Linked DNA regions of Homo sapiens. The protein of the gene in region 1 purifies or fractionates together with the protein of each later gene. This does not show direct contact. Each region holds a gene or a part of one and is shown in the gene's direction. Other genes may lie near its edges. The genes, in order: TDRD7 and CDK17.

Region 1 (17,281 bases):
AAGGCAGAAAGGGAGCTCTCTGTGGCTTGTTTTGTAAGGGCACTGATGCCATTCATGAGGGCTCTACCCTCACAACCTTATCACCTCCCAAAGGTCAAACCTCCAAATACCATCATACTGGGGGACAGGTTTCAAAACAGGAATCTGGGGGGACACAAACAGTCTATAGCAAAAACTGATAATGGTTAAAACTGCACGTGGTAAAATTTATCATTGACTGAAAATTGATGGAAGAAAAGTATATTTAACATTTTGATATGCATAATTTGACCAAGGAAAATTGACTTGGTAGGAATAATAATCCCTAAAGAAAGCTTACAATAGCAGAATCTACAGTCAGTAAATTATGATGTGGATCCCCAAAATATCAAGTCATTTACATAAAAAATTGATCTTGATAAAAATAACTTCAAGCCAGGCCTGGTGGCGCACATCTGTAATCCTAACACTTTAGGAGGCTGAGGTGGGAGGATTGCTTGAGGTCAGGGGTTTGAGACCAGCCTAAGCAACATAATAAGACCTTGTCTCTACAAAAAAAAAAAATAAACATTCTGTCCACTGTAGCATCCTAAATTTATAACAGTCTAGTTTGAATTAATACCAACTTAGCTTCAACAGCACACAAAAATTCTGCTCCTATACGGTTCATCCCCTCCTACCTTTATGTTGCTGTTATCACAATTAATATCTTTTTTTCCCTTGAGACAGGGTCTTGCCTGTTCACCCAGGCTGGAGTGCAGTGGTGTGATCATAGATCACTGCACCCTCAAACTCCTGGGCTCAAGCAATCCTCACACCTCAGCCTCCTGAGTAGCTGAGACTACAGGCATGTGCCACTATGCCTGGCTATTTTTTTTTAATTTAATTTTTTTTTTTTTTTTAGATATGGGGTCTCTCTACATTGCACAGGCTGATCTTGAATTCTTGGCTTCAAGTGGTCGCTCAACCTTGGCCTCCCAAAGGGCTGGGATTACAGGCATGAGCCACTGTGCCTGGCCATAAATTACACATTTTACATGTATGCCTGTTAAAAGATTTATAATTACTTTTCATGTATTTGTCTTTTGAACTGCATAGGAAATAGTTACAAACCAAAAATGCAACAATACTGTTTTTATATTAATCTATGCAGTTATCTTTACTAGAGATCTTTATTTCTTCATATGGCTTCAATTTGCTGTCCAGTGTCCTCTCATTTCAGCCCCCAAGGACTCCCATTAGCATTTCTTGTGAGAGCAGGTCTACTGGCAGTGAATGTTCTCAGATTTTATCTGTGAATGTCTTAATTTATCCTTCATTTTTGAAAGATAGTTTTGCCAGAGAGAGAATTCTTCCTTGAGTTTTTTCTTTCAGCACTTTTTCATTCCACTGCCTGCTGGTCTCCATGGTTTCTGATGAGAAAGCAGCTCTTAATCTTATTGAGGAGTCCTTGTGTGTGACTAATCATTTCTCTTTTTCTGTTTTCAAGATTCTCTTTGTCTCTGACTTTTGACACTTTGATTATAATATGTCTTGGGGTGAAGCTCTTTGAGTTTATCCTAGGAGTTTGTTGAGTTTATCCTTGGAGGTTTGTTGAGTTTCTCGGATCTGTAGATTCATTTCTTTCATCGAATTTGGGACATTTGCCAGTCATTATTTCGTCAGATGTTCTTTCTTTCCCAACTCTCTCTACTCTTTCTGAAACTCTCATATTGTAAATTTGATTCACTTGATGGTGTCCTACAGGGCCCTTAGCCTCTGTTCACTTTTACTTATTCTTTTGTCTTTGTGCTCCCCAGACTGGATAATTTCAATTGCCCCGTCTTCAAGTTCATAGACACTTTTTTCCACTTGCTCAAACCTGCTGTTGAATGCCTCTAGTTAATTTTTCATTTCAGTTATTACAGTTTTCACCTCCAGAATTTCAGTTTAGTTCTTTTTTATTTCTATTTATTAATTGATATTCTTTCTTTGTTCATATATAATTCTACTGATTCCTTTTAGTTCTTGGTTTATGGTTTTCCTTATCTCATTAAACATATTTAAGGCAGTTGACTTAATGCCATTGACTAATAATTCCAATGTCTGGTCTTTCTTAGAAAAGATTTCTGTAAACTTCTTTTTTTCTGTGAATGGACCATGTTTTCCTCTTTTTTTGTATGTTTTGTAATTGTTTGTTGAGAGCTAGAAATTTTAAATACCATGTTGCACTAACTGGATATCTAATTCTTCAATACCTCAGAGATTTCTTGTACTTTATGAGGACTGGGTCATCTATTTATGACTTTTTAAAACTATTTTTGCAAGATATATATTGTTGTTTGTGGTCACTAAAGTTTCTGTTCCATCATTTCTGTAATCAACCAGTGACCCGACAAAGATTTCCTTAAATGTCTGGTTCCCAAAAGACATGGGGGTGGGAGCACAAGTATTGTCTCTTTAAATCCCCAGGAAGCTGCTTCCTGGAGGTTCAGCTCATGGAGGTTGAAACAATGGCTGTCAGCCTCTGTGCTGGCCCCTGAAAAATCAAAAGCAGAAATCAGCACTCAGAACACAAAACCTAATATTTGAAGGACAAAGTCCTTATTGCTTACCCTAGCTCTAGCAAGTCACACCAGGAATGTGGGCCGCCACTCCTAAGGATGCACACATACACACACACACACACACACACACACACACACACACAGCTTTGTAAATAAAGCTCCCATAATTACCGTGATATTTACAAGTGAGCTTATAGTTCAACCTGTAGTGTACAAAGGAAGGAAAATACCATGTTAGTGCTGACACACCATATCACTCTCAGATTAAGAACCACATCGTTAGAGGAAATCTCCTGCACTGTCTTACTCCAGCCAGCAGCTTGCTAGCCCTCCTTAGCCAACTGCTAGCCCCCAGGTGCTATACTTTTCTAATTATAAATATAAAAATCCAGTCTTAAGGAAGTTGCTGCTGAGAGTGAGGAGTCCAGTTTTAAATGAAAAAGACTGTGTGAGGCGATGAGGGAGAATTGGGAGGAAGATGAAGAAGACTATCTCTTGTACCTATGGTAGGGGAAATACAATTTGGGGCTAAGTAAACTCCAGAAAGACCCCCAAAAAGAATGATTCTAACTTCCTCAACTGGTCTGAGCACTAGGGCAAGTGAGGTAATTTTATCTAGTAAAGATAAATTTGTGTATCCCTATGTCTACTGGTGTAAACAAGAATATCCTGCTCAGCTTCTCTCTGGGTGGAGTTGGCTGTTGGGGGATTTCGAGTAGCAGTATTATCTGACCTGGCACCCCCGTTTTATGACAAATATTTTGTAATCCCTTCATTTACTTTCCTAAAGTGAAATTCACAGATAAAAATAGCATTGGAAAATTCACTGTATAGTAAAACTGTGGGGAAAATTATTTGTGTTTATATATAAGGCAGAGGTCTGTCATCTACATAGATGACTGGCATGACATCCACATGTTGGTTGAGACAAGGGGAACTTCTCTGATATGGGGGAAGTACCACAAGCATCCCAGCCCCACCCACTCAATGCCAGGAGGTGCACCTGATCTTTTTGACAACCAAAAATAACCTCATAAAAGTACAAAACAACGTGCCCCAGGCTTGGGGGCAGGGGGCTTGGACTGGGGCAGAGCCCACTGTCTCAAGAGTGGTTGAGTATCTATGGGGAGTGGTTATTTCCCATAGATAACCACTGATGAATAGAAATTGACCAAACAGCCCCAAGAGAAGCCTCTTTCACTACTTTCTGTGTTCACTTTGCCACATAAGGGAATCCAAGGCTAGAACCAGAGCCAAAGGGCTCTGGAGTTCTATGCAACCTCCCAATTTAACGAAAGGTCAAGTCCTAAATGATCCAGGGCAAGCAACTAACGGGTAGTGATTCTTCCTGTATAGTACACTTCTAATCGGAGCCCACACTTCTCGAATACTGTCTGCTTCTTTCAGTGTCAGCTCACCTATACTGAGCACCTCCTCTGCACCCATGTAGTTTCTCCTCACTGCCTCCCCAATTCCTCACCACTAGCAGCTATTGCAGTATAATTCTTGTGCCATCTGGTTTATTGACTATTACAAAATCAGTCATATTGTGGTTGATTGCCTTGCTTAAAATATTAGTTACCTCACCTCCACACCCCACCCCACAGCGGGGGCCCTAAGCCAGCTAACTCTTAACGATATCCACATCCTTGGAATCATTCTTATTTTGGGGTCCTAAGACTGAGCTATATGAATGAACTACAAGTCAGGAGAGGGCAAAGGTGACCTCTTAGACAGCCAAGACCCTCCTCTGTTGGTTCTATGACCTTTCTCTACACAATATCCCTTTAAGCTTTCATTATCCCCTGTTTTCCAGTGTGCTGTGGCTGTGTGGCCTCTAAAGCTTTAGTGATCAGTCCCTTCTGGGGATTAGGCCCTTTCAGCTGACTCACCTTGGAGGGCTTTGTGGGCAGATTAGGGGGTTTTGCTTGATCAGCACATCCTTAGCTTTACCGGGGCCTGGATTTTAGCAGGGCTCCGGCAATCTCTGCCTTTTGTTTTTTGTTTTGTTTTGTTTTGTCTTTTCTCCTTACTCAGTTGAAACAAATGCAGTTGTCTAGAAATTCCTCTGCATTTGTTCATGAGGCAATTAAAGCTGATGGGAGAGGCAGTGATTATGGTGTTAATGATTAACCAAAAGTAGATCTGTCCAAAGATTCCTTTTGTCGTGGATCTATTTTTCCTGACCTTATGTAAGCAAAAAGTACTCATGTGGCTGGGTTCCATCTGTATACATAATTTCAAACATGCTGTAGTTTAGTTTCAAATAGGGGTATTGTTAAAATTATTTGCAATCAAATAACTCAGCAACCAAAGATGAATAAAATGTAAACTCTTTTCAAGTTGTTCACAAGGGAGATGAGATATAAAATCACTTGTTATGTTCTCTCTGCTATAAATATATTTAAGGAACAAAGCAGTCTAGAAGCTCAGCTAAAGGAACAATGATTGTCAGGTGGGGGATTCGAGGAAGGCTTCCTGAGAGAGGAACTACTCCAGACATTGAATAATGTTATTACCAAGTCCCCGCTGTTCATTTGATGGGTCATAAACTGATAGAAATGAAAGTTTTGTTTTTGGTTTTTGCTTTCTTTTAGGAGTCAATATAGAGAGGAAGGGAAGTGAGATGACAGCACCTAGAGGTCTATCAAGTTGTTGCTCTAAATTTTGCAAGTGACAAAGCTGCCTATGGTGGTTGTAAAGTCTGACAGGCTCTTAGAGAAAGGATGAGGAATGTATTGTTCTTGGGCTATATTGCTAAGACCAAAAGAACTATCAGATAAGAAAAAAAAAAATGAACTACAGACATGTTCCTGGACCATGCTTGCTGTCTCACCCTCATTCTAAATGGTGCTTGCTGATGAGAGATGAAAAAGAGGAAGGACAGAGATTCAACTCAACCAATAGTATTGGTCCTGCCTGCTTTGTACAGGCATTTTGGTGTTTGTATCCAATGTGACTCTCTCCAAATATATAGGCTCCTCAGGTGTGGACAAAATGCATGAAGGGCTTTGGATGGAGGTTTCACACTGGAAATATGTCCATCTTTCTCTGCCAAGGATAAGCTACCAACAAAGCTGTCTTCCTTCCCCATACTTGGGCCTTGATTTGCACTCCCTTCCCACGATAACCTCTCTCTTGTCTCTGGACAGGCACAATGACCTGCCAGCCTTCTGCTTAGTGGCCAGCTTTTACTAATTTCCCCTTCCATCTACCTTTCCTACCCTAAAAACCACATTAAGCAGAGTACCAAGGACCTCTCTACAGCCCTTGAGGATGGGAAATTATGCCTGCCTCTCTTAAAAGAGATCTAGATGCTCCTGGCCACTGCCCTTGTTGTCCAAAGATATGCTTGGGCATTTGCAGAGGAAGAATGCCTTCCATCTGAGTCCTGTTCATTTCAAAAACTCTGCTATTTGGCCCCAGGATATATGCTTTCCTCTAAGGAAATTTTTAACGTGGGTTCACAGTGGAGCTTTAAGGACTCTATATCCTCTCTGAAATCATACATCAAAATTTGCTTTCATCTATTCTGACTTCGCCACAAAAGGGTAAGAACCATTGTGCCTACGGAGTAACCAGTCTGTTCCATCTCTGATATCTCTTAATTCTCCTGAAATCCAATTATATCCAGGGTATGGGGGTGAATTCTTGAACTCCCTGGGTCTTGGACCACTTCACAAAGACAAACAAACAAAAAAAACAACGTTCTAATCTGCCCTTGCTCTGTCAGATACCCAGGCAATTCTGAGAACCTCCTGATGTCTTGGACAAAAATCTACCTGCAGAACAGACACTTTACCCAAGAACACATATGAAGGGCCAATAAACACATGAAGAGATGCTCAACATCATTAGTCCTGGGGAAATGCAAATTGACACCTCGGTGTGCTATCCCTATACATCCACTGGAATGGCTAAAATTAGAAAGACAGGCAATACCAAGTATTGGAGAAGATTTAGAGCAACTGGAAGTCTTACACATTACCAAGGAGAGAGTAAAAGTGGGAGTACAAAATGGCACAGCCACATTAGAAAACAGTTTGACGGTTTCTTAAAACGTTAAGCGTACACCTATCCCACAACCAGATGTTCTATACTTAAGTCTTTATGCCAAAAAACCACATCACCACACAAAGACCTGCATATGGCTGTTATTACAGCTTTATTTATAACAGCCCAAACTGGAAACAACACAAATGTGCATGAAATGTGAATGAATAAACAAATTGTGATAAAGCCATGCAATGGCTTACTATTCAGCACTAAAAAGGAACCGACTACCACTATGTGCAACAACATGGATGACTTTCAAAACCATCATGCTAAGTGATGAAGCCAGACACAAAAGATGACATCCTGCATGATTCCACTTATATGATATGCTAGAAAAGGCAAACCTATGATGACAAAAATCAGATCAGTAGCTGCTAGTGGATAAAGGTATGGGGAGAGAATTAACTGTAAAGGGGCACAGGAGAAGTTTTGGAATTATGAACTAATCCCATATGTTGATTGTGGTGGTAGGTACACAATTAAAGACGTTGGTCAAAACTCATCACACTGTACATTTAAATATGTATTATATGTCAACTATCAAAAAAGCTGGTTTAAAAAAAACTAGCTGCAGAGCTTCATTTTTCTTTACATATAGGGCAGTCTAAACATGGAACATCTTTGCAAGGATAAAGGATCTCAAACTTGGGTTCAACTCACATTATTTTATGATTTATTCTACATATTAGACTCTGAAATTTTTTTTTATTTCCTGCTACTACTAGCACTCTTTCCTTTGGCAGCTGCTTTTTACATCTTTCCCTTCTAAAATGTGGAGCCACAGGATGTTGTGAGTACTGCAGAGACCAAATTGGGGCTGGTTGTCTTTTAGGTCTGTCTTGGTCCATTCCTGCTGCTATAACAAAATATCTTAGACTGGATAATTTATAAATAATAGAAATTTTTTTCTTACAGTTCTGGAGGTTTGGAAGTCTAAGATCAAGGTGCCAGCAGATTTGGCATCCTGTGAGGACTTGCTCTCCTCTTCAAAGATGGCACCTTCTTGCTGAATCCTTACACAGTGGAAGGGGCAGAAGGCTCCCTTAAGCCCCTAAGGGCACTAATTCTATTCACAAGGACGAAGCCATCATGACTTCTCAAAGGTCCCACCTCTCAACACCGCAAGAATGGGGATTAGGTTTCAACATGAATTTTGTAGGGACACAAACATTCAGACCATAGCAAAGTCTATTAAAAATCCACTGCAATGTTTGGAGTAGACTGGAAGGGAAAGAACAGAAAGACATCTGAAATAGACTGAAATAGAGCAAAGGAGATGCAGAGAAATTCCAGAGAGAGACATTTAGGCAAACTTAGTCAGGGACCAGATCTAGGATATGAAAGAGAACAGTGTTCAAAGAAAAGCCCTGTTCAAAAACTCTGAACAATTCCCTACCGCCTTTGGGGAAACATCCAAGTGTCTGAGAGCTGGATATCAGGTTTTCCAGATTTACTTCCAATTTTTCTTTGTATTGCCTACTGCATCTTTTCACTGAATCAAAAGCTCTATAAGCACAGGCTTATCCATGAAAATTTGTTATTTAACAGCAGGTGTTCAATATATATTAGTTGATTGTCCATTCACCTTCTGACGGATGTTTGTATTCTTTCCATGTGGGGCTACGGCCAACACAACTGCCATGAGCACTCTTGTACAGGTTTTTGTGTGGACATCTGCTTTCATTTCTCCTGGGTAAATACCCAGGAGCAGAATTGCTGGGTTGCGTGGTAGGTTTGGTACATCCCTACAATACCATTCAGCAATAGAAAGACATGAACTATTGATACATGTAACAACATGGATGAACATAATTTGCTAAATAAAAGAAGCCAGGCAGCCCCCCAAAGGATAGTACATACGATTCCATACATAAAAGTTTTACATATAACTCTAGAAAAAGCAAAATAATCTATAGCAACAGAAAGCAGGTGAGCAGTTGAGGGGGCAAGTGACAGGGAGGGACAAGATATAAGAATTACAAAGGATCACAGTAAAACTTTTTTGGGTGATGGATATGTTCATGATTTTGATTGCAGTGATGGTCTCACAGTGATATATATATATCAAAACTTATCAAACTGTACATTTTAAACATTCAGTTTATTGTATGTCTTATACATGGCAGTCAAGCTGTAATAAAATACCGGTTGAATAAGCAGCAGGTTCTCAGTAAATGCATAATTTATCAAGCTGTACATTTTAAACGTTCAGTTTATTGTATGTCTTATACATGGCAGTCAAGCTGTAATAAAATACCGGTTGAATAAGCAGCAGGTTCTCAGTAAATGCATAATTTATCAAGCTGTACATTTTAAACGTTCAGTTTATTGTATGTCTTATACATGGCAGTCAAGCTGTAATAAAATACCGGTTGAATAAGCAGCAGGTTCTCAGTAAATGCATATCCAATGGTGCAGAGAAGTGTTCAATGTTGGCTGCAGGGATGCAAAGCAGGTGCCAATAAGTGTTGGTGGAATTAATGTGCAGAATAAATAAGTATTCACTTATTAGGTGTTCAATAACTTTAGAGTGAATGAATAAATTTGACAGATATTTATTGCTGATCGTGTGCTAGGCACTATCCTAGGCTCTGGGAATAGGTTAAGGAACCAAACAAAAATCCTTGTGCTCACAGAGCTTTAATTTTAGAAGGATAGCAGACAATAAAAGCATAAGTAAAATACATATAGTGTGCTAGATAGGTGCTAAGGAGAAATAAGGTTGAGAATGGGGATAGGGAAAGTCAAGGAAGGAGGTTGACATGTTAGAGACTGTGTCCACCGTCATTGAAAGGGTAATGCTTGAGAAAGGCCTGAAGGATATGGGCGGACAGAGTGTGTGTCTAGGGCAATAAAAAGTAACTGCTCCAGATGTTGAAGAAAATAATGTGCAGGAGTTGAACTGTTTGGAAGGAGGGTGAGCCCCATAGAAGGAGCCACCCTCGCCCCCTGCTGAGTCCCGGCTCGCTCGGCCCGCGCGTACCTGCGTTGTCCACCAGGAGGCGCTCCCGCACCCGCCCCGCAGGCGTCTTCCGCCGCCGGCCGGTGCGTGGGCACGCGCAGAAACCGCTAGGTGGCGACGGTTTCCCTTCCCACGCGCGGACGCCGGCGTGGGCCGACGCGGCCGGAGCGCCCGCGCGTGCGCAGAGCCGAGGCCAGGCTGCCCTCGAAGCGGGGCGGGGCGAAGCGGGGCGGGGCCGAGCAGGGCGGGGCGGGGGCTTGAGGTGATTCCCAAGCCGCGGGGCGGCTCCGGTGGTGCGGGGAAACCGAAAGTGGGCGGCGGCCGCGGCGGGGCCCCTGGCGGAGACGGCGGCAGGAGCTGGGCCCAGAGACGCGGGGACGGGCCGTGGGCCCCCGGAACGAGGTGAGTGCAGGTCCTGCGGGCTCCGGGCGCGACAGGTGCCGGGCGACGTCGGACGAGATTTCGGGCGGGCGCGGCGCACCTGGGTCACCGGTGGGACCGCGGCCAGGGCCGGGGGCTCCAACAGGCTCGGGGCCTTTTCCCTGCAGCCGCAGGGGATTGCCCCCGCCCCGACGCCTGGGAACCGGGCTGGGCGCCGGGGGAGTTGGAGTTCCAGAGCGTTGTGTTTTAAATCTCTGAAGGGACCCTGCTCCGGGCCGGGCGTTCACGCGGGAGTCGGACGGAGCCTCCTGCCGCCTCGGAAGCTCTGCGCCGTGGGGGAAATGCAGCAGCGGGGTGTGGACGCGGGCGGGAGATGCGGACCAGGAAGTGGTTCCCGCTACCGGCGCGACAGGCCGCAGCCGCCGCCCCCAGCGAGGGATGTCCGCGCTCCCCTATTTGAACCCAAGTATTTTACACCACGAACTTCTCTTGAAGGTCTCTATAATCTGGAGACGAGCCCCAGGCAGGCCGCTTAAGTAATGCAGGACACACATCCCCATTTCTCTCAAACGAGGAGCACCCAGTGGGTACAGAGCACCCAGCTGGGAGGGAAACATGGATCCGTGAGTAAGTTGTCTCTCAACTTTCAGTAGCATCCCCTCAGCAGGGTCAGACTCTCAGCTTCAGCTTGCTAGGAGGGAGCTTGGAGCCGGCATATCTTTCTGCTCCCATTCACTTGAGAGGTATATTTCCATTAATAGCTAAAGGTACCATTCTCAAATAATTTCTAAGAGCAGGGAAGGGAAACAACCACATTAGAACAAGTCCTGGCCCAGAAGAATTCTGATCACCGCCCATCCAAACCAAACCAAACCAAAAAACCACAGATCTAGTTCATTAACCCTCCTACCAACACCTCTCTGCTCTCCAATCGTGCCGGTGAAAAAAATGCAGAGAAATGTTCTCTCTAGAGAGATAGGCAACAGCTTAATAGCAGAAGTAAAACTTGGACCCAAATCCCTGTCTCGTCCTGGGCTGCCTTGATGTGTATGAATGTGTTGCATACTGCAAATAATGTGAACTTTGCAGACCTGGATTGAAATCTGGGCTTCTCATTTTACAAATTGTGTGATCTTGAACAAATTACATGCTTTCTCTTAGCCTGGTTTTCTATGTGTCAAATAGAGGTACCTGGCTTACTTTGCAAGGCTTTTCCAAGATAACCACTGTATATCCTTTGCCTCATAATAATTGCCAAGCAGTATTCACTCTCTTCCTCCCAACAAACGGTCCATGTTTTACATAATTGGATTTTAGTTTTTTGAGGGCAGGGACACAAAGATCTTTGTGTTTACTATATAATATAAATGGGCACATGGTGGATATTTTTGCATTTCCTCTCAGCTGACATTCATTGAGCATCAGTTACGTGCAAAGTACTGTTCTGGGTATAGGGAATTGCCCCTGGGGCCAGCTGGATTAGCACTCACATCTCCTGTGCCCCAATCCAGGGCCCTTTGGTGGCACACAGCCTCCGTCTTTGGTAGTTGCACGGTGAGACTGTGAGGCAGCAGTTGGCAGTGCCTTCAGATTTCAGTCTCTGTAGATTGAAAATGAAGTGTAATCCCCTGCTAATGCCCTTTTAAGTGTACAGGTTGAACATGGCTGAATGAACTATTGTATTGTGCATCAAGAGATTTTAAACTCCTTGCAGAACCCCTCTTTTAAGTTCTCTGTGCAATATAATCTAGCTGGATACTTAATGTGAATATAAAGAAAAAATATAATCCAACCCCGAGTGCCTAATTTGTGTTTGTCAAGTGCTGTTTTCAAGAATTGAGATTTGACATAGAGTGCTTTGCATCTGGACACTTTCACAGAAGTTCCTTGGTGAAATTTTATATTTACGTGAACTGTTGTTTCTTTGTGCCAAACCTGCTTTTTCCTCCCTCCACTCCCACCTCTGTACTTTTGAAAGCTTCATTCTTGTCATTATTTCCCTGTAAGCCAAATATGTTTACAGTTTTGTCTTTCAAACTAAAAGTAATTAATTTTGCAATTTTTAGTTGAAGACATGTATATATGCCAATCAGAACTTGATCAGTGCAAGCTACCCAGTGTGACTTCAAAGTAAGCTTGGCATTTTAGCCTGTGCAGCTTTGTCATGAGTAAGCAAACTCGGTTTTCATTACATATTTGGACCTTATTTCAGCCTTCAGTGAATCCAAGGAAAGTTGAGAATCATGGCTCTTGCCCACCTTTCTTATCTTCCTTGTGAAAAAAAGAGACCTGAAGTGACTTGTCACAGGTAATCAGTAGCGGAACTAGGATTAAGACACAAACTCCTTACTAAGCCACTTTATTATCTCAGGGTTTTTTCGTCTAGTATGTAGACTTATGGAAATCCCTTACTTACGTACATTCGTGGTATGCAGTTAAAATGCACGAATAATTTGGAACTTGAGATCACAAGAATAAAAAAGATAACTCCCTGAAAAAAACTCTTAAGGAAGTATACCATCATCTGAGGGTATTAATCATCTTTTTCCTTTAAAAACCGGTTGGTGAAGGAGTAATTGAAGTGGTAACAGACTATGATTAGAAAGAAAAGAGCATTTAAAAGTGTCGCAAGGTGAGAAATCATTTATTGGGTAAAGATCTTAGGAAAAAATTTTCCCTCTGAGGCTCAGTTTATTGATTTGTAAGATAAGGAGCTTGGGTTAGCCTAGACGATGCCTAAAATGTGTCAGCACAGACATTATGGGACTTTAAGTTCCCGCTGTTGCTAAAATAGTGTCTTCAAGGAGAAGGGCAGTTAGTTATTAGAAGTATATGCCCTAAAGAGATATCCAGATACTTCAAAATTGAACATCTAACTAAAAGAAGCTAAGAGAGATTACTTGGTGTTTTCAGTTTACCCTAATAATTCTTCTGATTTGTTTTAAGATTTAGTGCCACTCGACAACTTAAACTGATGACATGAAAAATGTAGTAAGGAAGATGAGCCAAATCATACAGTTGGAAATAGTTGAGCAAGAAGAAACTTAGAAAAGAGAAGGCATAGGATGGAAGCCAGACTAGCTCAGCTAAAGGCCTTTGACACCAGTAGTTAGAGGAAGCAGATAACATGCAAATGACTGAGCCAGGGAGGATCAATCAATGGTAGAAGGCGTTTATCTGGGATACACCAAAACCAGGTTCTTCAGAATAGGACTTCCTTGGGCCATTTTCAGGTATAGTAAAGAGAAAAGCTGTGAATTTACAAAATGCAGTTTTGAAGTAGAGTGAGAATTATTTTAGGCCACTTAAATTATTTAAATTTTGTTTCCCTAAAGATTGTCATCACTCCCCAACTCCCCACCCCACCTCATGTGCATTATTAGTGTCTTGGATAATTAAGATTAACTGGGTATAAGCGAAGAAAAAAAGGAAAGCACGAAAGCATAAAAAAGATAGTCTCAGCTACTCAGGAGGCTGAGGCGGGAGAATCACTTGAACCCGGCAGGCGGAGGTTGCAGTGAGCCAAGATTGCGCCACTGCACTCCAGTTGAAATTCCTATGATATACTTTCTTTTATGCTTCTAATGGATGATGTCTAAGATATTAAACTTTATTTTTATAGTTAGAACAAAGTATTCTTATATACCTTGAGAGTATAATTGCCATCTTCCGAAAGTTTCAAAAAAAAGTCATCATGAGCCACGTAACAAAACTCAGAGCATTTCCAAAGTGATATAGTTTAGAAAATAATGACGATTTTTTTTAAAGCTTACACTTTCTTTTTCGTTCACTGCCTGAAGTGATGTTGCTAATGTGGGAATTGAAATCAGACTGGCAAGTCGTGCATTTGAATACAATCACATTTAGCCTTCCAGGTTTTACTGCATTTAACTGCTTCTCACCAGCTTGGAGACCCACAGTCTTATACTCCAAGGGATTCCCCTTCCCTTCAAAAAGTTGTTTGCAAATAGAGAGTTATAGTCCTCCATGAAAGATAGCATACTTTAAAAAGGCAGGCAGGGGGAGGGAACTTAATTTACAGATTGCAACCATGTGGTCAAGCGTTGATTCTCAGTCTCCTCAAGTATGAGGCCATTTTTTGTAGCTTTAGAAAAATTTCGTGAAACCTCATACACTAGTAGTTGTGCTTGCAGTATCCATTGGTCAATTAAACATATAACTACCAAAAGCTGTTGTGAATTTAATATCAGTTTGTGTTTATGGATCCCAATAATATCTGCACACTCTGAAAAACAGGACTATAAGTACATGTGAGACATTTACTAATATTCAAGCCGTGCCTGCTGCTTGTCAGGATGTGTGGGCTCCTTGCAATCATGCTGCGGCCCTGACAGGGCCTAATCTGGCTCAGAGTGGACATGCTCAGAAATAATCTACTTGATGATTCTCAACCACAGTTTGGTGTTGCGATTGGCTGTCTCATTCAGTTTATAAGAATTGTTAACATTTGCAGATAATTTTTTAGTAACTTAAATTGGATTCAGAGTTATGCCTTTAATAGCTCACCTATGTTATGCTGTATTTTAGTGAGTAGGAGAGAAAAGGAGTGGTAGGTGGATGGAGAATTTCTTATTCATTCAACAAATATTTATTGAGCTCTCGGTGGGCTAGGCACTAGGGATTCAGCAATGAACAAAACAGACACAAATCCTTGCTTTCATGGAGCTTGCATTGAAGTTGGGGAGAAAGATAAAACCATTAAATGGAGAAGAATATTGGATGGTGATAAGTGCTAAGGAGAAAATCAGGGAAGCTGGCATCTCAGTTTTGATTTTGAATAGGGTGGCCAGAGAAGGCCTTACTGTGGAGGTGACAGTTGAGCACGTACTTTAGCTGAAGGAGGTAAGGCTGTGAGCCACATGTGCCCCTGGAGTCAATATGTCCCAGGTAGAGAGAATGGCAAGTACAAAAGCCCTGTTGTGAGGCCATCTCAGGCATGTTCAAGGAAAAGCATGGAGCCCAGGATGGGTGAATGAAAATAAAGAGAAGAGAGAACTTAGGGCAAAGAAGTGGGGGTTGCAGGTTATGCAGGGCCCTTTTTGGCTCTGTAAGGACTTGGCTTTTTGTCTGAGTTAACACAGGAAGCATTAGAGGGTTTTGAGTGACGTGATATAATAGTATATATTATATGAAAAGATCACTCAGGCTGATATGTGGAGAACAGATTCTAGGAGGTGAAGTGGAAGCAGAGAGACCAGCTAAGAGCCCAGCTGCTCTGCTCCAGGAAAGAGATGTTGCTGACACGGACTAGGACAACTGCCATGGAAGTGGTGAAGAGTGAAGGAATTGTAGACATCCGCCTTCCATCTTTATGTATCACATTGCTTGGGGGAGGATTGAGAACTAATACTGACCTCACTCATCTTACAGATAAAGAGAATGAGATCCAGGAGAAGGGGCTTATCCCAGGAAAATGAGTGAGCAGTGGCATTAAACTTGCGGAACACAAGTAAAAGGAGGCTCAGGCATAATCTTCTGCAATCCCCTGCCCTTCCCCCAAAACCAAATCAAAATATATCAATGGCCAGGTGTTAGCAACTTTACTATTGAAATATTTTAAAGTAGATTTTAACTGTGATAATATGTGCATTAAAAAGGGGGTGAAAGGCCAGGCACGGTGGCTCACACCTGTAATCCCAGCACTTTGGGAGGCCAAGGCAGGTGGATCGTGAGGTCAGGAGTTCAAGACCAGCCTGGCCAACATGGTGAAACCCCGTCCCTACTAAAAATACAAAAAGTAGCCAGGCATGGTGATGGGTGCCTGGAATCCCAGCTATTCAAGAGGCTGAGGCAGGAGAATTGCTTCAACCTAGGAGGCAGAGGTTGCAGTGAGCGGAGATCACGCCACTGCCCTCCAGCCTGGGTGACAGAGCAAGACTCTATCTGGGGGAAAAATAAAGGGGGAGTGAAAGTAGGAAGTATGTGTGTGGCATAAGCTTTTCTCAGGTCAGATTGAGAAATATAACTTAGAAAAAACAGTCTGACAATGCCAAGAAATCAAGGTGGGTAAATGTGAGGTTGGATAGGGTGGGAAAAGTGAAAAATAAGGATGAGCACTTCTGTGCCGTGCAGATTCACACTGGTATTTTATTTAATTTTCTTCCAAGAGTCTCGGGGCAAAGGATAGAACAATTAGGATGGAGGTCACGAGACATCTGCTATATAAAGGAGAAGACACATTTAAAGAGGGTGGGACTAGAGAAGCAAGCATTAGGCAAAGCTTCGTACCTCACTCTGCTCTGGCCGTTAAACAGGTCATGGGTGGGGACAAGAGGAAGACTCTACCTGAATGCCGCTCCTTAAAAAAAAAAATTGTGAAGTGCCCTTTTTGGGAGATCCCTGCTTGCAGCTGTTTCAGAGCAGAAATAAGGAAGATAGAAGGGACATTTCAGGGGCAGTGGTCTAAAATGGTTCTCCCAAGGGTGGAAGGAGTGGAAGGCTTTCGCAGAGGGCAACCTGTAGAACAAGCCTCTGATTAGACTCTAAGACAGGGCTGGACCTGTCCTTTCAAACCTGAATCACAGTGTTCTGTTAGGTTTTAGTAACAGGACACCCATTAGTAAAATGCATTTATCCGACATTTTTTCCCCATAAATTAATGGTTGCTGTCCACTCCTAATGTAGCTGAGAAAAGTAGACCACAGAGGGGAGGTGGCAGTGGAGCAGATGCTCTTTCCAAAATGAAGGGAAGGAGAATACCATGGAAACTCTATTCTTAAGGCAAAGGGTAAGGCCTTCTTACTGAAACTCTGGCAGGGGAATATAAAGTAGTCTGGCCAGGGAGGAGTCAGATATATTGAACAGTCTAATTTGAGTCGTTTACACTGGTCACACCCAGATGGATATTTTCCCTGGATGTGTGCTAACCACCTGACATTATATCTATATGTAATGCGTATGTAGCTGATAGCCAAGGCCCACTTAGGCATACGGATATACAAAGATGCAAAGCCCAGTTTCACTCAGAAGAGCTCTAGATGAACTGATGGGAGGGATTGGGTTTTGAAGGGAAGAAGAGCACATAGATGGGGAAGGTGGAGATCAGAAATGGATAGTCAGGGTGGATTGGCACTGAGGAGTAAGCAAGTGATGCTTTAGTATGTCCTCTTGCAAATTAAAACTTGGCCAGTCTCCACTGTTGCTTTTACTACTTGTGGAAATAACTGTATAGTAGTTCAGTGATCTTTGACTCATGAGTCATGAACCATTGTTAAACTATTTTCCGTGTCATCAGTTTACTATTCAGGACCCAAAATTCATACTTCAGCATTGACATCTGGCAACCGTGAAGTATAGGTCCCAAAGCTGTCCTCTTTCCTGCTCCCTGGCATTCATT
Region 2 (16,618 bases), on another chromosome or scaffold:
GTTGAATAAATGAGCTTTGTCCTCTGTCCTCTGAATAATTTCTGTAGGAGAGCACGTCAACAAGCTAGTCATTATATCTATTGTTAATCTTGTTGTGTTCAGCAAATAAAAATGCAAGCAAAATTTTCTAAAAATTTTATTTAAAGATTCAGTAAGTACTGTTTTGATGTAATCATTAAATCCTAAGTTGGAAATTACTAAATTGGGGGCTAAGCTTTTACTTTTTGAATTAGGATCTGACAGACAATTCACTAGTGTAATTGTGCCTTTGTCTGAATTCTCTGCCTGCCTGCCTGCCTGCATGGGTGGAATTCAGTAGTGTTGTTTATTTTATAGACTGATTATTCAAATTTAAACTTAACCTCTTACATATTTGTCTTTACAGTCTAATTTGTAGTCCATTTACATAGTCTTTAAAGCAAACCTCGACATTTTGTCATAGTAACCATTGGACCCTAGTGTATTTGATGTTTTAAGAACATAGTAGTATTCATTCATTTAAGATAAAAGGATTAATAAGAAAATTTCTCTACTCCTGAGAAGAAAAAATGCCTAGCTTACAGTCTTATTTCCCGTGTGCTTCTCATTGTTATAATGACATTTTAAATATTTTTTTCAGGAACATTCATTCTTTTGTTCATACTAGTTTGCATTTATTCTCAATATAGTGTTTTTTCCCCCATAAAAGATGACACAAAACTTAAAATTCATGGCAAAAATGCGGTAGTTCCATATTCATGAATTTAAGCACCTAAATTCCAGAGATAAGTATCAGAATAAAGATATTTTATTAGTTTCTGTGATCTTGGCAAGTAGCCTTTTTTATGGAGTAAAGTATTTAAGATCATATATAAATAGGCTATATAAAACATATATAAATTAAAAGATTATTCGTAATCAGACTGTCATGTACCAGATAGTGGGCTATTTGCCATGTTTTTCATACTGATTTTAAAAACTTCACTTGTATTTTAAAAATGTTATCTATTGTAGTTTTACTTCTTTATTTTGCATAGTTATTGATACTAGAAAGCGAAGGACTTAATACTGAGTCATGTTCAAGACAATACATGGATGAATAGTGTATGATGGTCGTAAAACTTCATTTTTAAAATTTAATGTTTTATGAAAAACGTCATAGGAAAATGTCATAGAATGCAAAAATAATTTTTCATTCATTCAATAATACCTGTGACCAAAGTTTTAATTAGTTTACTAAAATTGAATTAAGTACTATTGGACGTGCAGTTTTCCACATGGCTTTTAATATGATACATATCATTGTAACAAAAAGATAAAAACAGTTATTTTGAGGGGCCTCTGCTACTTTTGGCCATTCAGCTTTGGATAATTTATCCTATTGTCTGAAATGGTAAGTGATGCAAGTCTAATTACCAAGGATTATTTTAATTTTATTCCACAGTTCCAAGGAAAATTGCGTATTTAGACCTCTAGAGTTTGACTAAATCACAACGTTTAATCATCTGGCATAATTTATACACCTTTGAGAACTGAGATTATGTATTAAAAAACATTATTTCCTTTAACTGGCTTTTTATTTAAGGGCATTAGCACCATTCTAAGCAAGTGGATCTTTCTTTAGATTATCATTACCTTTTCCATTATCTATAAAGGGGTACTAGAAAGCAACTTTAAGAAAATTCTTTTCCCATTCTGTTTTACTTTTTAAAATATTTCTGCTCTCTCAGTCCCTAGTTTTCAATCTATCTAAAAACAAATTTTCCTAAATTTTGTGTTAAGGTTTTTTCTTTTTCATTTTAAATATTGTGTTTGTATTACATATTTAGGTATATTTCATGTACCCTGTTTATCATCTCCATACACAATAGTCAGGCGAGCTCAAGTTTTAAAAGCAAGGCTTTTAAGAACTCACTTTTAAAGCATTTTCTCTTGTTGTTGTGGGTTTGTTTGTTTTTTTTTTTTTTTTTTGGCCGAGTGTTGAGGGGGGGTGTAGCCAGAATTAGACTTACATTGCTGCTTCTATGTTTGCCACTTCCTGATCCATAGAAGAGCATGATTTTCAGTTGTCTTTTTCATTGTATTTTGATTGGAAAGCCTGAAACAAATAGTATTTTGTTGTTTGCAGGACTTCCTTGGGAATTCAGATTGGTGAGGGAGAAAATACATAGGAAAATTATTTATTTTGCAATTTTGTTAAAAAGAAAATCCCAAGTAGTTATCCTTGATAAGATTCTTTAGTATCTTAAAATGCCTGTGGTATCTTAGAATAAAACCAAATATTTTTCATGACAGAATGTTAACTGTGTATATATAAAGGTTGGGTTGACAATTTTGATTGTGAACTTTGATATTTTTGAACCTTTGAATGTTCCAACATTGGGTTTATTTTAAAACTTGATAGATATTCAACCATTTGATTATAATCAGATTTTTCTATTCTTAGTCATTCTTTAGAGTGGGAAAGTTTCAGAAGTTGAGGAAGAGATGAATTGAAACTTTAAGAATATATACAAGGCTGGGCGCGGTGGCTTACGCCTGTAATCCCAGCACTTTGGAAGGCCAAGGCAGGCAGATCACTTGAGGTCAGGAGTTCGAGAACAGCCTGGCCAATGTGTTGAAACCCTGTCTCTGCTAAAAATGCAAAAATTTGCCGGGCTTGGTGCTGCGTGCCTGTAATCCCAGCTGCTCCGGAGGCTGAGGCAGGAGAATCACTTGAACCCGCGAGGTGGAGGTTGCAGTAAGCCAAGATTGTGCCGCTGCACTCCAGCCTGGGCAACAGAGTGAGACGATGCTGTCTCAAAAAAAAAAAAAAAAAGTAAATACTACATTTTTCATTGTTTACTTTTCAGTCAGAAATTGGCTTTGGAAAAATGGAAACCTACATCAAATTGGAAAAGCTTGGAGAGGTAAGTAAATATCTCAAAAATGTAAGACACATTTTTTTCTTATTCGTCATTCAAACTCTGTTACTCCACGGTTTTTGTTAACCTGGAAAAAACGTAAGTACTGATGTCTACAAGATTATATACTTGTTCTGGAAAGGTAACAGAGTTTCTAGGAGTTAGAGTCTTCAATTCTTGAAATTATCCCATCAGTTTGAGAGGAAATGAATTTTTTTTATAGCTTTGAAATTTTTATTGAAGCAGAAAGTATTATGTTTTCTTAATAACAAAGTAGGCATTTGTCACTTAGTCTACTGCCAGTCTACTGTCTGTGCCACCATGGGAAATTGCATGAGTTCAGACCTGTGAAAAATCAGAATAAAGATAAAAACACATTTTTTGAAGGTTACGGAAATTCTTAAGATCTTGGTTTTCTTGAACTTACTACTAGTACTACTGATTTAGAAATGGCCTACCTCCTATAGTAGGAAAGGGCAAAGAAAACAATAGTTAATAGGGAAGGCTTAAAGGAGCTTGAGGGCTGTCCTGGCAATAATAGAAGAGATCCTTGTTTTTTAAAGGAGAGTTAATGTACAAAGATTCTGAAAAGTCTAGAAACATGGGTAAAATTTTTATGATTGCCGGGCGCGGTGGCTCACGCCTGTAATCCCAGCATTTTGGGAGGCCAAGGCGGGTGAATCACGAGGTCAGGAGTTCGAGACCAGCCTGGCCAACATGGTGAAACCCCGTCTGTACTGAAAACACAAAAATTAGCTGGGCGTGGTGGCGGGCGCCTGTAATCCCAGCTACTCGGGAGGCTGAGTCAGGAGAATCGCTTGGAACCGGAAGGTGGAGGTTACAGCAAGCCAAGATTGTGCCACTGCACTCTAGCCTGGGCGAAAGAATGAAACTCCATCTCAAAAAAAAAAAAAAAAAAAATTTATCATTTAACAATATGTACATTATGTTTTCATTTTTCAATTAATATGTTCAATTAGTGTCCATCAGTCTCCATATACCATTGCAGGTAAAGCACCTTTGATTTTAAAGCTATTGATCTAATTGTTAATCTAAAATAAGGTACAAAAAGTAAATATTCTGTCTATGTTTTTATACTCTTGAGGCACTCTGTAGTGTTACAGAAGTATGGAAGCTGTGCATATGAACTGAAAGTCCTGTTTACTGTAAGAAAAGCCATGGCTGATCATTGTGTGTTTTTCTTTGCAAGATGGAACTTAACAATGCTTAGAAACTAGAAATTCAGGTAGAGCTCTTTATTATAAGATGGTATTAAATAGACTCTTATGATACTTTTGATGCGTCCTTTAAAAATATATTTTATAGGGTACATATGCAACAGTATATAAAGGAAGAAGTAAATTGACAGAGAATTTGGTGGCATTAAAAGAGATCCGATTGGAACATGAAGAAGGTGCACCCTGCACAGCTATAAGAGAAGGTATAATAATTATACAGAACATTTTAAAATCAAAGTGGTGGAATAAGTGTCTATTTTTTATAAGTAAAAAGAGCTCAGATATACAAGTAATAAATGACTGGAAGATGTAATTAAACCTTTAAAAAGCAAATTTCTAAAACAAATACTCAAAGGGATTAATTATATTAGTGTATAACTTATAATGAAATCTGAATTCATTAAAAATCACTATCATAGACAACTATTTGTCATAGGGAAATGTTATACATTGGTACATGAGGAACATGGTAACTATAAATTAACCAGATAAACTAAATAAATTAAAAAACAGTGTGTAAACATATTTATATCATAGTACCATTTTATAAAGAAGATTATTCAGAAAATGGCTTGAGGCAACTGATTAGTAATGTGGAGGGGAAAAATGGTTCCTTGTAATTTATATCTAAATTAATGCCAGAAGTTTCAAAAGTTAACATTTAGGAAAAATACAGAAGATGATATGGAGAATGTTATAATATTGGGGACAATTTTAAGTATTATAATATCAAACCCAGTAGTATAAAAGAAAAAATTGATTTCCATGAACTTTTTTTTTTTTTTGAGAGGGAGTCTGGCTCTGTTGCCCAGGCTGGAGTGCAGTGGCGAGATCTTGGCTCACTGCAAGCTCCGCCTCCTGGGTTCACGCCATTCTCCTGCCTTAGCCTCCCGAGTAGCTGGAACTACAGGCGTCCGCCATCACGCCCGGCTAACTTTTTTTTGTATTTTTTAGTAGAGACGGGGTTTCACCATGTTAGCCAGGCGATCTCCTGACCTCACGATCCGCCCGCCTTGGCCTTCCAAAGTGCTGGGATTACAGGCATGAGCCACCGTGCCCAGCCTCCATGAACATTTTTACAACCAATCCCCTTGGTAAATTATTGCTTTAAACTTAAGAGAATCTTTTTTTTTTTTTTTTAAATAGCATTGTTGCCCAGGCTGGTCTTGAACTCCTGGGCTCAAGTGATCCGCCTGCCTCGGTCTCTCAAAAGTGCTGGGATTATAGGGGTGAGCCACCGCCCAAGACCTAAACTTAAGAGAATCTTTTAATCAGTTCGTATGTTCAACTTACTTCAGGTTTTTATAAAGACTGCCACAGACTAAACAATTTTCTTTTTCTGTTTTGCAGTTTCACTATTAAAGGATTTAAAACATGCAAATATAGTAACCTTACATGACATTGTTCACACAGATAAATCCTTGACTTTGGTGTTTGAGTATCTGGTAAGCATCTCATAAAAATTCAGTATTTAACTTTACTTTAGAAAAACATAGTAAATTGGACTTTTAGTTTGTTTTTTATTTTTCTTTAAACTGCAGCTGTGCTTAGCTAAATTGGACTTTTTAACAGCCCAAGAGACTTTATTATTTAGTTATCAGTTTTTCATTAAATTATGTGTATGGTGCATCCAGTATCTTTTCTTGAAAAACAACTAATTTTGAAAAACACTATTAAGTGAACCAGTCACAACATTCTGAAAATGGTGTATCACATAGCAGAGTGCTGTGTTTTTCCAGGATAAAGACCTGAAACAGTACATGGATGACTGTGGAAACATCATGAGTATGCACAACGTAAAGGTATGTTTTCTTGCGTGTGTAATTTTTAAATTTTGTTTAAAGCATAGGTGAACCATTATATAATGAAATGTACCAGCCTCATAACTCTTCTTCAGGGTTTTCTGTTTGGCCTTTTAAATAGGTTATTGTCCTCTGAACGTGCAATATTTACCCAGAACTTCTGTTTACTACACTATAGCTTTCTTAGGATCAGACCTTTTTGTAGAACCACTTCATTCTTTTGACATTTCACATTACAACTGATTGTCCTAATATAGAATATATGTACAGGTGTATTCTGCTTTAAAAAAAAAATTCAAAATAAACACGAATGATGGGTGCATTCTGTGAAAGGCCTTCTTTAAATAGTGAACTCCCCAAATAAATGGTATTTAATTGTAAAACAACAACTTTTCAGAACTAATGAATAAGGCCAGAACATGCAGGTTTTATGAACACTATGCTGGAAATACCAATCTGTACTGTCAGGAAGAAGAGTAAGATAATTGGTGTGTTTTCTTACAACAACATATTTAAAAATTTAATGCTAAAAATGTTTGCCATAAAATCAGTGCCAGATGATACCCAAAAGTTATTAACTGAGTAACAGCATCCAGCATAGTTTGTATTCTTACAGTAGGTTTCTTTGACCTGAGTAGTGTATCCAAATTTAGCAAAGATTTATTTATCCAAACTTAGTCAACAATATGTAAGAACCTATTCTGAAAATAGGCTGTCGCAGCTGTGTGCTTCAGACATTTCTAATTCTGTAGGTAGTAATTTTAAACTTACATTTTAAAAAAATATTAAGTTTGGTGGTTATAAAGGAGAGCCAGTTTCTGTTACTAAAAGACAGCTCAGAACATATGGATAACACATTGCTAAGGATTTTTAAAAAGGGCTTTAAATGTACTTCCATATATATTCTGTCAGGGTTGTTTTCATCTTATTTTACATCTTTTGTTTGCAAAGTGTTATAACTGTCATTTTGTATTTTTTTGGTTTTAATTTTGTTTTTCCTGCTTTTTTTATTGGCAATAATTTGAAAATAAAACAAGGTCCTTGATGATAATTTCACAAATGTTGAGACGTTTATTTCTTTAATGCCAGGTTTACATGATTAGCTTAAGTTGGAAAGCGTTTTATTATTTATTTGTTTAAATGGCCTTTATACTTTCAAAATACAAAGTGTAACAAGAATTCATTTAAATAGTAATTTTAGAGTTTTAAAAACATAATTATGTAGACTGGAGAGACTCTGGCACAGAGAATTCATTCAGGCATACCGTTGACCTGCTGCCTTGGCTGCCTCAGTGTTCGGATGCCCTGTTTTTCACCTACAGATGAACTGAGGGGAAACTCTTGAATCCTCTGTACTTGAGGTTCTTTTTGTTAACCCCAGAGAATCAAAGGTCTTATGTGTTCCGTAACCCTCTTTCTACCAAAATGTACAGCAAAAACTCTACCATTAGCCTTATAGGAATTACTTTTTTCAGAGTCATTCAGAACACTACGGTGCTAATGCCCCTTTGTGAATCACAGTAGATTTTGAAGGCTAAGTAGGAGGTGCTGAAAGTAAAGTACCCAAGAGATGGGTGATAGAAGCTGGTTTAGGTTAGTTTTATAGTAAGTAATTTGCCAGAGCTATGCAGCAGCTTTCTCTTTGATACCTCAGACTTTTCATAAAATCGCCAATTCCAGTGCCTTATTTTAAAGACACTGCCCCAGATCAGAGTTTTTGTTTTTGTTTTTTTTCAAGGAGAGATGGGTGGGAGGGGGGTTGGTTGGTTGTTTTGCCAGAATTTTATAATTAAACTATGTAAACCTTAGTAGGCCTGTAAGTTTATGAGGATATGTTTTTTTTTTTAAGTCATTTTCCACAGTAAATCAACTGTTACTGCTAGGAGGAAGTTACTTTTTAAAAAATATTTCCATAGATACTGTTAGACTAAAAGAAATAGGTAGATGCTTCAAATAGAATAATAAACTATTAAATTCAGAAAGCCACTATATATAAAAGGAAAAAGACATTGTACTTAAGTATGCAATTACTTTCTTTTTCCTGTTACAATGTTCTAGGCCAGCTGCTTTTCTGCTTACCATCATTTATGCTTATACTAAAGCATGTCTCATCTTTAAGACTAATTTTTATTTATTTGTTTCTGTAGCTGTTTCTGTACCAAATTCTACGTGGTTTGGCATATTGCCATAGAAGAAAGGTATTGCATCGAGACTTGAAACCACAGAACCTCCTCATTAATGAGAAAGGAGAATTAAAGCTAGCAGATTTTGGTATGGAATGTATGAGATATTTATTAGTACTTCCAGGTTCTAAAGTGTAATGGTTAAAAGATCAACCACTGTCATAATGTGCCATTGCTTTTATGTGGGTTTGGAAATTTTCTCGGTAGCCCACAGAATAAGATATTTGACAGAACTTTGGTTGGTGATTTATGTTGGTTATTAGCAGCAAATTCTAAAATGCACAGGCTGTTCTTGGGTGTGGACAAAGACCCCTAGGGCTCCTGAGACCCTTGTAGGAGGCCTCTAAATGTAAATATATTACCAAAATTGTACCATCTGTTATTTGCCTATTTCACTGTGTTAATATTTGCAATGATGGTCCCAAAATAATAATGCATAAAACTATACATCAAAGTAGTGGCACCAAAATATATCTTTTTTTTTTTTTTTTTTTTTTTTTTTGAAGACAGCATTTTGCTGTTAAAGCCCAGGCTGGAGTGCAGTGGTGTGATCTTGACTCACTGCAACCTCTGCCTCCCAGGTTCAAGTGACTCTCCTGCCTCAGCCTCCCAAGTAGCTGGGATTACAGGCATGCGCCACCATGCCTGGCTAATTTTGTATTTTTAGCGTGACCACCATGTTGGTCAGGCTGATCTCGAACTCCTGACCTCAGGTGGTCCACTCGCCTCGGCCTCCCAAAGTGCTGAGATTACAGGCATGAGCCACCATGCCCAGGCCGTCATTGTATTCTTTACCACTACACTTACGTAAAGGGAAAACTGTCAGTTACACTTACATGATGAAGCAATAAAATTTATTAATTATATTTAATTTCCATCCTTGACTACATTTCTTTTTAATATTTTATGTGATAAAATGGGAAGTGTACATAAAACTCATTTGCTGCACACAGAAATAATGTGGTTACTTCTCAGGGAAAAGTGCTCATGTGATTATTTGAGTGCACATTGAACTAGCCCTGTTATTTGAGGGGACACCATTTTTACTTAAATGACTGACAGACAAACTGTGGTTATTCAGACTTAGGTGTTTGGCAGACATTTTCCTGAAAGTGAATGAAGGAAGCCTATCATTTCAAGGAAAAGAACTGTCAGTATTTCTTGCCAATAATAAAATTCAAGTTTTCAAGCAAAAATTAGAGTTTGGAAATTTGGATCTGCTTTGAGTTTGATGGCTTTTCAATACTTAGAGACTTTTCTGATGAGATCGATGTTGATGTTAACAAACACGATTTTTCAATATGCTGAAAAAGTGTATAAACATTTGGAATGTATAACCCAGGGATCCACTGTTTTCCAAATGGCTAATGCATGATATTACAGAATCATGCATGGATAAAAGACCCATTTAAAGTACAAGGTCAATGAATTTTAGTGCAACAAAAGCATGAGAAGTTCATCGTTATAGGTTTTGTTAACACATAGCTTTTAAGAGACCACTTACTTTCTAGTTCTGATGTAGTGTCAAATAAGACTATTCACATTTATCAGAAAAGGCTATTAAAATGCCCCTCCTCTTTCAACCTCATATCTGTGTGAGATTTGATTTCCTTCATATATGTATGTTGTGATATGTATATTTGATCTATTTTGATACATATTGTGATATGTATCAAAGCAACATATCACGACACACAGAATGCAAAAACAGATGTGGAATCCAGTTGTCTTCTATTGAAATAGACTTTAGGCCAGACACAGTGGCTCAGGGGTGTAATCCCAGCACTTATGAGGCTGAGGTGAGAGGATCACTTGAAGCCGGGAGTTTAAGACCAGCCTGGGCAACATAGCAAGACCCCATCTCTACAAAAACAAGACTTAAAAGAGATTTACAAAAATGTGAAAGAAGGCCATTCTTCTTACTGTTTTGTTTTTATAAAAAAAATGTTTTTCATAAAAATGTCATACATGCTGCATATAAAGGGTGGTGTTTTTAAAGAGAAAATAATATTTTAAAATTTGCTAAGTTTTAATTTCTAATGTGGCAAATATCAGTAAATATATCCACAAAAATAAAAGCTCTTTAGGTCTTTGATAATTTTCAAGAGTATAAAATGGGTCTTGAGAACAATGAGTTTAGAAGCAACTACTGAAAGGCGTTCCCTTAATATACCTGCCACCATTACTCTGTATTTATTATATGCTCAGTAATTTAATTGTAGCTATTTATCTATTTTTTTTTTAGCTAATCTGGTTTTAAGGGAATTGAAAGTAAAATTAAATGCTCTTTTTGCTTCTAGAAAGTAAACTTTTTCATATTGAAGGAACTTTGTAGAGCAGCTTTGAATTTTTTGTATTCCGCATTCTGAGAGTTTGAATACTCTTAGAGAACTTAGTTTTTAAAAACCCATGCAGTTTTCCATAACTAAATTCATAATTTTTTTTCATAAATGATTATGGTAGTTTTTTGGTTGTTTGTTTTGAGACAGGGTCTTGCTCTGTCACCCTGGCTGAAGTCTAGTGGTGCAATCTCAGCTCACTACAACCTTCGCCTTCTGGGTTCAAGCGATTCTGGTGCCTCAGCCTCCCAAATAGCTGCAATTACAGGGGTGCCCACCACGCCCAGCTAATTTTTGTATTTTTAGTAGAGATGGGGTTTCACCATGTTGTTCAGGCTGGTCTCGAACTCCTGGCCTCAAGCAATCTGCCTGCCTTGGCCTCCCAAAATGCTGGGATTACAGGTGTGAGCCATCACACCTGGCTTTGATTATGGTAGTTTTATGTTTGGAGTATTTCATTAAATTTAATAAATATGAGTGTTTCAAGTATTACTCTTCACTGTCATTAAATGGTGAGTTTATTCTGGAAATTCCTATACTTTTGCTCGTTTAATACTTTGCCATTTGAAGAGTAAATTACTTTTTGCATTTCCTTCCTTAAAAAGGAAATGTGTGGGTTACCTGTGTTTGAATAACAAATTATATGCTATTTACATATGCTTTCATAAAGTCTCTTCTTGGGCATAGTTTATGTTGTTATTTCCCTTATAATAATTGTTACTCTCTCTCTCTTTTTTCTTTCTCTTTCCTTCCCCCAGCCACTATTTCCTTTTCACTCTTTTTCCTTCTCCTTCTCTTTGTTTGCTAACCTGCATGTAATGCTCTTTATTCCCAATCCCAAAATGAATGGCAGTGAAGAGAAATACTTCAGGATGCTAAGGCGGGTGGATCAGATGAGGTCAGGAGTTCAAAACCAGCCTGACCAACATGGTGAAACCCTGTCTCTACTCAAAATAGAAAAGTTAGCTGGGCATTGTGGCGGACACCTGTAATCCCAGCTATTTGGGAAGTTTAGGCAGGAGAATTGCTTGAACCCGGGAGGCGGAGGTTGCAGTGAGCCAAGATCATGCCACTGCATGACAGAGCGAGACTTCATCTCAAAAAAAAAAAAAAAAAAAAGCAAAAGGAATGTCAAGGACTATAAAAAATTTACCTTTGGCTGGGTGCGGTTGCTGACACCTGTAATCCCAGCACTTTGGAAGGCCCAGCAGGCAGATTGCTTGAGCTCAGGAGTTCAAGACCAGTCTGGGCAATATGGCAAAAACCTGCCTCTATAAAAAATTTCAAAATTAGCCAGGTGTGGCGGTGTGCACCTCTAGTCCCAGCCAGTTGGGAGGCTGAGATGGTAGGATCAGTTGTGCCCGGGAGGTTGAGGCTTCAGCGAGTCATGATCAAGCCATTTCATTCTAGCCTGGTTGACAGAACAAGACCCTGTCTCAAAAAGAGGAAGAAAAAAACAACAACTACTTTTATCAGGGAATACTCTGAGTGCTTTAAATTTTGCTTCCAACCTCTACAATGCAAGCCAGGCAAATTTTACCCACAAGGCAACAAGAAATTCTGATTATTCCATGAGATAGTATATTCAATTCTGTCTCTATTTCTTCCTTTTTTTTTTTTTTTTTGGTTGCATAGTAAATATGACTTCTTGTGAAGGAGGGTCATATAACTTTGAGTATTTATACTATAAGTTGTTCTCTGTCCCTCTGAAAATTCTACCCTTTTCCCACGATCAGTGAAAATCAGAAGTCTAGGAACTAGTGATATAGACAGATATTTTCACTAATGATAGAAAATGGCTTATATAATAATACCATATCACATTTAATTAATTTTGTTTAGGAGAGATTGTTTCATTTCATTCCAACCAGTATTGAAATTCTAATTGTGAACTAGAAGGCCATGTACACAAACACCATAGTTCGGAATCCTCTCAGGAGTGGGAGAGTAGGATACTGAGGAAACTATAACTGGTAATTTGCCTTGATATGGTATGTTACAGGATAAGCACGTTTGCAGCCCTGTCCTTTGCCTTCCTATAACCCACTTTTAATATCAAGAAGAGAGGTCAGAAAGCTACCTCCATCTTGTTAATTAATTACCAAAATTGGTATGAAAATAATTTGTTGGACTTACTTCACCAAGTTGAGATGCTAGAGTAAAACTTGTAATTAAATGAAGGAATGTCAACATTGTTCCAGTTATAACCTTTCACCATTATACTGAACTGAAATAGTATATGAGTCCTGCCTAATTAAATTTCTGACATTGTTTCTGTAACCTTATTCAGTAAAATTGATTTTTTCTTTTGTGACATTTTTCTTTAATATTTTAATCAGATATACCAAGTTATATATAACAGCAATCTCAGCCTAAAAAATAAATTCTTCCTTGTTTTGGCAAAATAAATTTGTAATTTTCCAGATATTTTTTAAAGTTGCTTCTTCAGATCATAATTTAGAGGCTTCGAGGTAATAGCGACTCTCTCACACTAGTGACTCAAGAGATAAAGTTGTAAACTCTAGCCTTTATTTCTGGATTATCAATAGATTCCATATTAAATTAGCAAAGGAATGGCAAATGTTTTATATCACTTACAGCAAGCTTGTCCAACCCATGGCCCATGGGCCATATATGGCCCAGGATGGCTTTGAATGCAGCCCAACACAAATTCGTAAACTTTCTTAAAACATTATGAGATTTTTTTGCGATTTTTTTTTTTAAAGGTCATGGCTGTTGTTAGTGTTAGTGTATTTTATGTGTGGCTTAAGACAGTTCTTCCATTGTAGCCCAGGGAAGCTAAAAGATTGGACACCCCTGACGTAAACAGCAATTAATAATATCCAAGGACAATGAAGTCTGTCTTACTCCAGAATGATCCATGTAACTTACAACCTAAAAAGGGAGTACAGAACAGCACTGTAATTTTATTCCAAGGAAATTGTCTCTAAGTCGATTTGTCAGTAAATCTCAATGAGATTATGGACCAATAACTTTACAGTTTTTGATAAAAAATGGTATAGCAAATGAAAGTTGGAATCAGGTTAAAAGGTGACAAAAGCTCATAGCCGTTAGAAGTAAAATTGTGTATCTCAATGTCATTGGCCTATTATGGATTAATTTAATTGCAGCTGAGAAATAATTTTGTCATCATGATTCATGGACAGAAGGAAAACATCTTAAGTTTAGATTCACCCAGAATACTTCACCAGGTGTATTCAAACATAAAAGTAAGCACAGTCTCTGGTTGTGGAATTCTTGTTTAGTTCAACTATGTAAGGATTTGCTTACTTAGGGCCACATGCACTCAACGAATTCATAAAGTTAATAGTGGTGAAGCCTCAAGAAGCTACGAATTAACCATTTCAGGCATCCCTTTGAATGGAGTCATGGTGAGAATAGGGTCTGAGAGATCCATTAAAGCTTTTTCTTAACCCTTTGTTTTATTTTCCCTATGAAGGACTAGCCCGAGCCAAGTCAGTTCCCACAAAGACCTACTCAAATGAAGTTGTCACACTATGGTACCGGCCACCTGATGTGCTTCTTGGTTCCTCGGAGTACTCAACACAGATTGACATGTGGTAAATATATACAGATGTCACTGACATTTATAATTTTGAAAGAATGTAACTGTTAATGCAAGATGTATTGATAAGTATATACTTTTAAGGAGATATTATTTTAAAGAGCCATAATGTAACAGTGATTAATGAGTTCTGGCATGGGAATTAGATTACCTAGGTTTAAATACCAATTCTGCCATTTAGAACTATGTGTTAACTTTATTCAAATTACTGGCCTTTGCCTCAGTTTCCTCATTTAAGGAAATGGGAATAGTAACAATAACTACTTTGAAGTGTTGTAGGTGATGTTAAGATTAAATGAACACTCAGAAGAGTGCTTTATGAGACACTCAAGAGTATCTGATACATAGTAATTTAAAACAAAATTATCATTTTATCATCATTTAATATTCACCAAAATCTTTCTGCTTTAACTTGAACTAAAAGTAATAATCAAAATATTGTAGTCATCTTTCTCACACACCGCTTCGATCCTGACACTCTTCTACTCAGACACCGTTATTGCCACCCCCTTCATTACCTATAGAATAAGGTACAATTAATTCCTCAATCTGATACTTAAGGATTTCCATAAGATGTCTCTAAACTACCTTTTCCAACTTATTTCAGACTGTTTCTCAACACAAATGTTCCCTTTTAGCAAAATGGCATACTCACTATATCTCAGGAATAATGTGGACTTTCCTACCTTTGCTCTTGGTGTTCATACCAGTCCACCCATCTGGAATGCCCACTCCGGTGCTCTAACTTGGGCTCATTCCTAGTAACGTTCAAAATACAGCTTTTCATAAATCCTTTCCTGAATATACTCTAGCCTCTGTTGGCAGTTCCTTCCTCTGAACTGTGGTTGCATTTATTTTCTATGTTCTTCATGTGGTAATAAGTCATATACCGATTTCTGTTGCTGTCTTGAACAGTTTATGTAAAATGTCTCGTATAACTTTTTAAAATTAATTTTTAATATTGTAAAATACTCATAAAATTTATCATTTTAACCAATTTAAGTGTACAGTTGTGAGACATTAAGTACATTTATATTGTTATGCAACCATCACCACTATCTATCTACCTCCAGAATCTTTTTCATCTTGCAAAACCAAAACTCTGTACCCACTTAACAATTTCTTCCTATTCCCCTCCCCCACCATCAGTTTCTGGTAACCACTGTTCTATAATACTTTCTGTCTCCATAAATTTGACTGTTCTAAGTACCACTTATGAGTAGAATCATGCAGTGTGTGTCTTTTCATGACTGGCTTACTTCATTTGGCATAATGTCTTTAAGGTTCATTCACGTTGTAGTGTATGCCAGAATTTCCTTCCTTTTTAAGGCTAAAAATACTCCATTAAATATATATTCCACATTCTGTTACCCATTTATCCATTGATGGACATTTGGTTTGCTTCCACCTTTTGACTATTGTAAATAATGCTGTTGTGCACATGGGTATACAAATACCTTTTCAGGACCCTGCTTTCAATTATCTCTCTCTCCTTCTCTTTTTCTTTTTAAGAGACATTGTCTCACCATGTTGTCCAGGCTGGTCTTAGACTCCTGGGCTCAAGCAGTCCTCCTGCATTGGCCTGATTTCAGTTCTTTTAGATATATACCTAGGAGTAGAATTGCTGGATCATATAGTAATTCTACTTTTAATTTTTTGAGGAACCACCATACTATTTTCCATAGCAACTATATCATTTTACTTTCTATATAACACTTAATATGTAAAATTAACTTTTATATATAGTTGCTAGATTACGAGCCCTTTAATGGAAGGATTATGTCTTAAACTGTGTGTGTACATACAGTTCCTAGATGACTGTTCTAAGAACCACCATTCTATTCTCTGAACCACCATCCTTTTCTTTTCCTTCACTTACACACACCGCCTTGTACCAACATGTTCTACCTCTGCTTCCTGCATCAAAACGTCTTGAATCATTTGTTTCTCTCCATTTCTCCTGCCTAGCTTCACTCACTGTCATCTCCTAGATTACCATAATATCTCTTCAGTTGTTTTTCCCCACTCCTGTCTTTGCTGTTCAATCCATGGTCTACACTATTGCTAATACAAGGATTCAGTGAGATAATTGGTGCACTTAAAAAACATTTCTAACACATAGTAAATCTTCAGTCACTGTTAGCTGTTGTTAGTGTTATTCTTCAAGGATTATGCAAAGGAGAGTTGGACATTTTAAGTGGGAAAAATGGATATAGCAATATAGAAATTGAGACAAATAGGGTAAATGCGAACAAATTAGTTAGATCTAAAATATCCCTTCAAGAGGTTTTCCGACAGGCTAGTGCAAAATTCTGCAGAGAGGCAACCTTAAGGAAAAGATTCTTGTGCTTCATAATATGTAAATGAATTGCTAAATTATTTTCATGATCTATTTTAAAGGGGTGTTGGTTGCATTTTCTTTGAAATGGCTTCTGGAAGACCTTTATTTCCAGGATCAACCGTGGAAGATGAACTGCACTTAATTTTCCGACTGCTAGGTAACAGAAGAAATCTTTTCCCAGTGATTTTGCACCCATAATTGACTAGCTGGATAAGACTGTATCTCTAAAATACATATTTTAAAATTA

Evidence for each region.
Region 2: the proteins of TDRD7 (region 1) and CDK17 purify together in Homo sapiens (affinity purification with mass spectrometry; 3 studies listed by BioGRID and IntAct, with this or other methods). This does not show direct contact.

Annotation. Positions count from the first base shown.
Region 1 is NC_000009.12:97,402,294-97,419,574, forward strand, and holds the start of TDRD7 (tudor domain-containing protein 7), read left to right. Parts: upstream 1-9,802; 5' UTR 9,803-9,945; intron 9,946-10,467; exon of another isoform or gene 10,468-10,551; intron 10,552-17,281. UniProt on the Homo sapiens protein: Component of specific cytoplasmic RNA granules involved in post-transcriptional regulation of specific genes: probably acts by binding to specific mRNAs and regulating their translation.
Region 2 is NC_000012.12:96,286,574-96,303,191, reverse strand, and holds part of CDK17 (cyclin-dependent kinase 17), read left to right. Parts: intron 1-2,831; coding exon 2,832-2,888; intron 2,889-4,208; coding exon 4,209-4,323; intron 4,324-5,470; coding exon 5,471-5,565; intron 5,566-5,859; coding exon 5,860-5,922; intron 5,923-8,069; coding exon 8,070-8,193; intron 8,194-13,904; coding exon 13,905-14,025; intron 14,026-16,430; coding exon 16,431-16,528; intron 16,529-16,618. UniProt on the Homo sapiens protein: May play a role in terminally differentiated neurons. Has a Ser/Thr-phosphorylating activity for histone H1.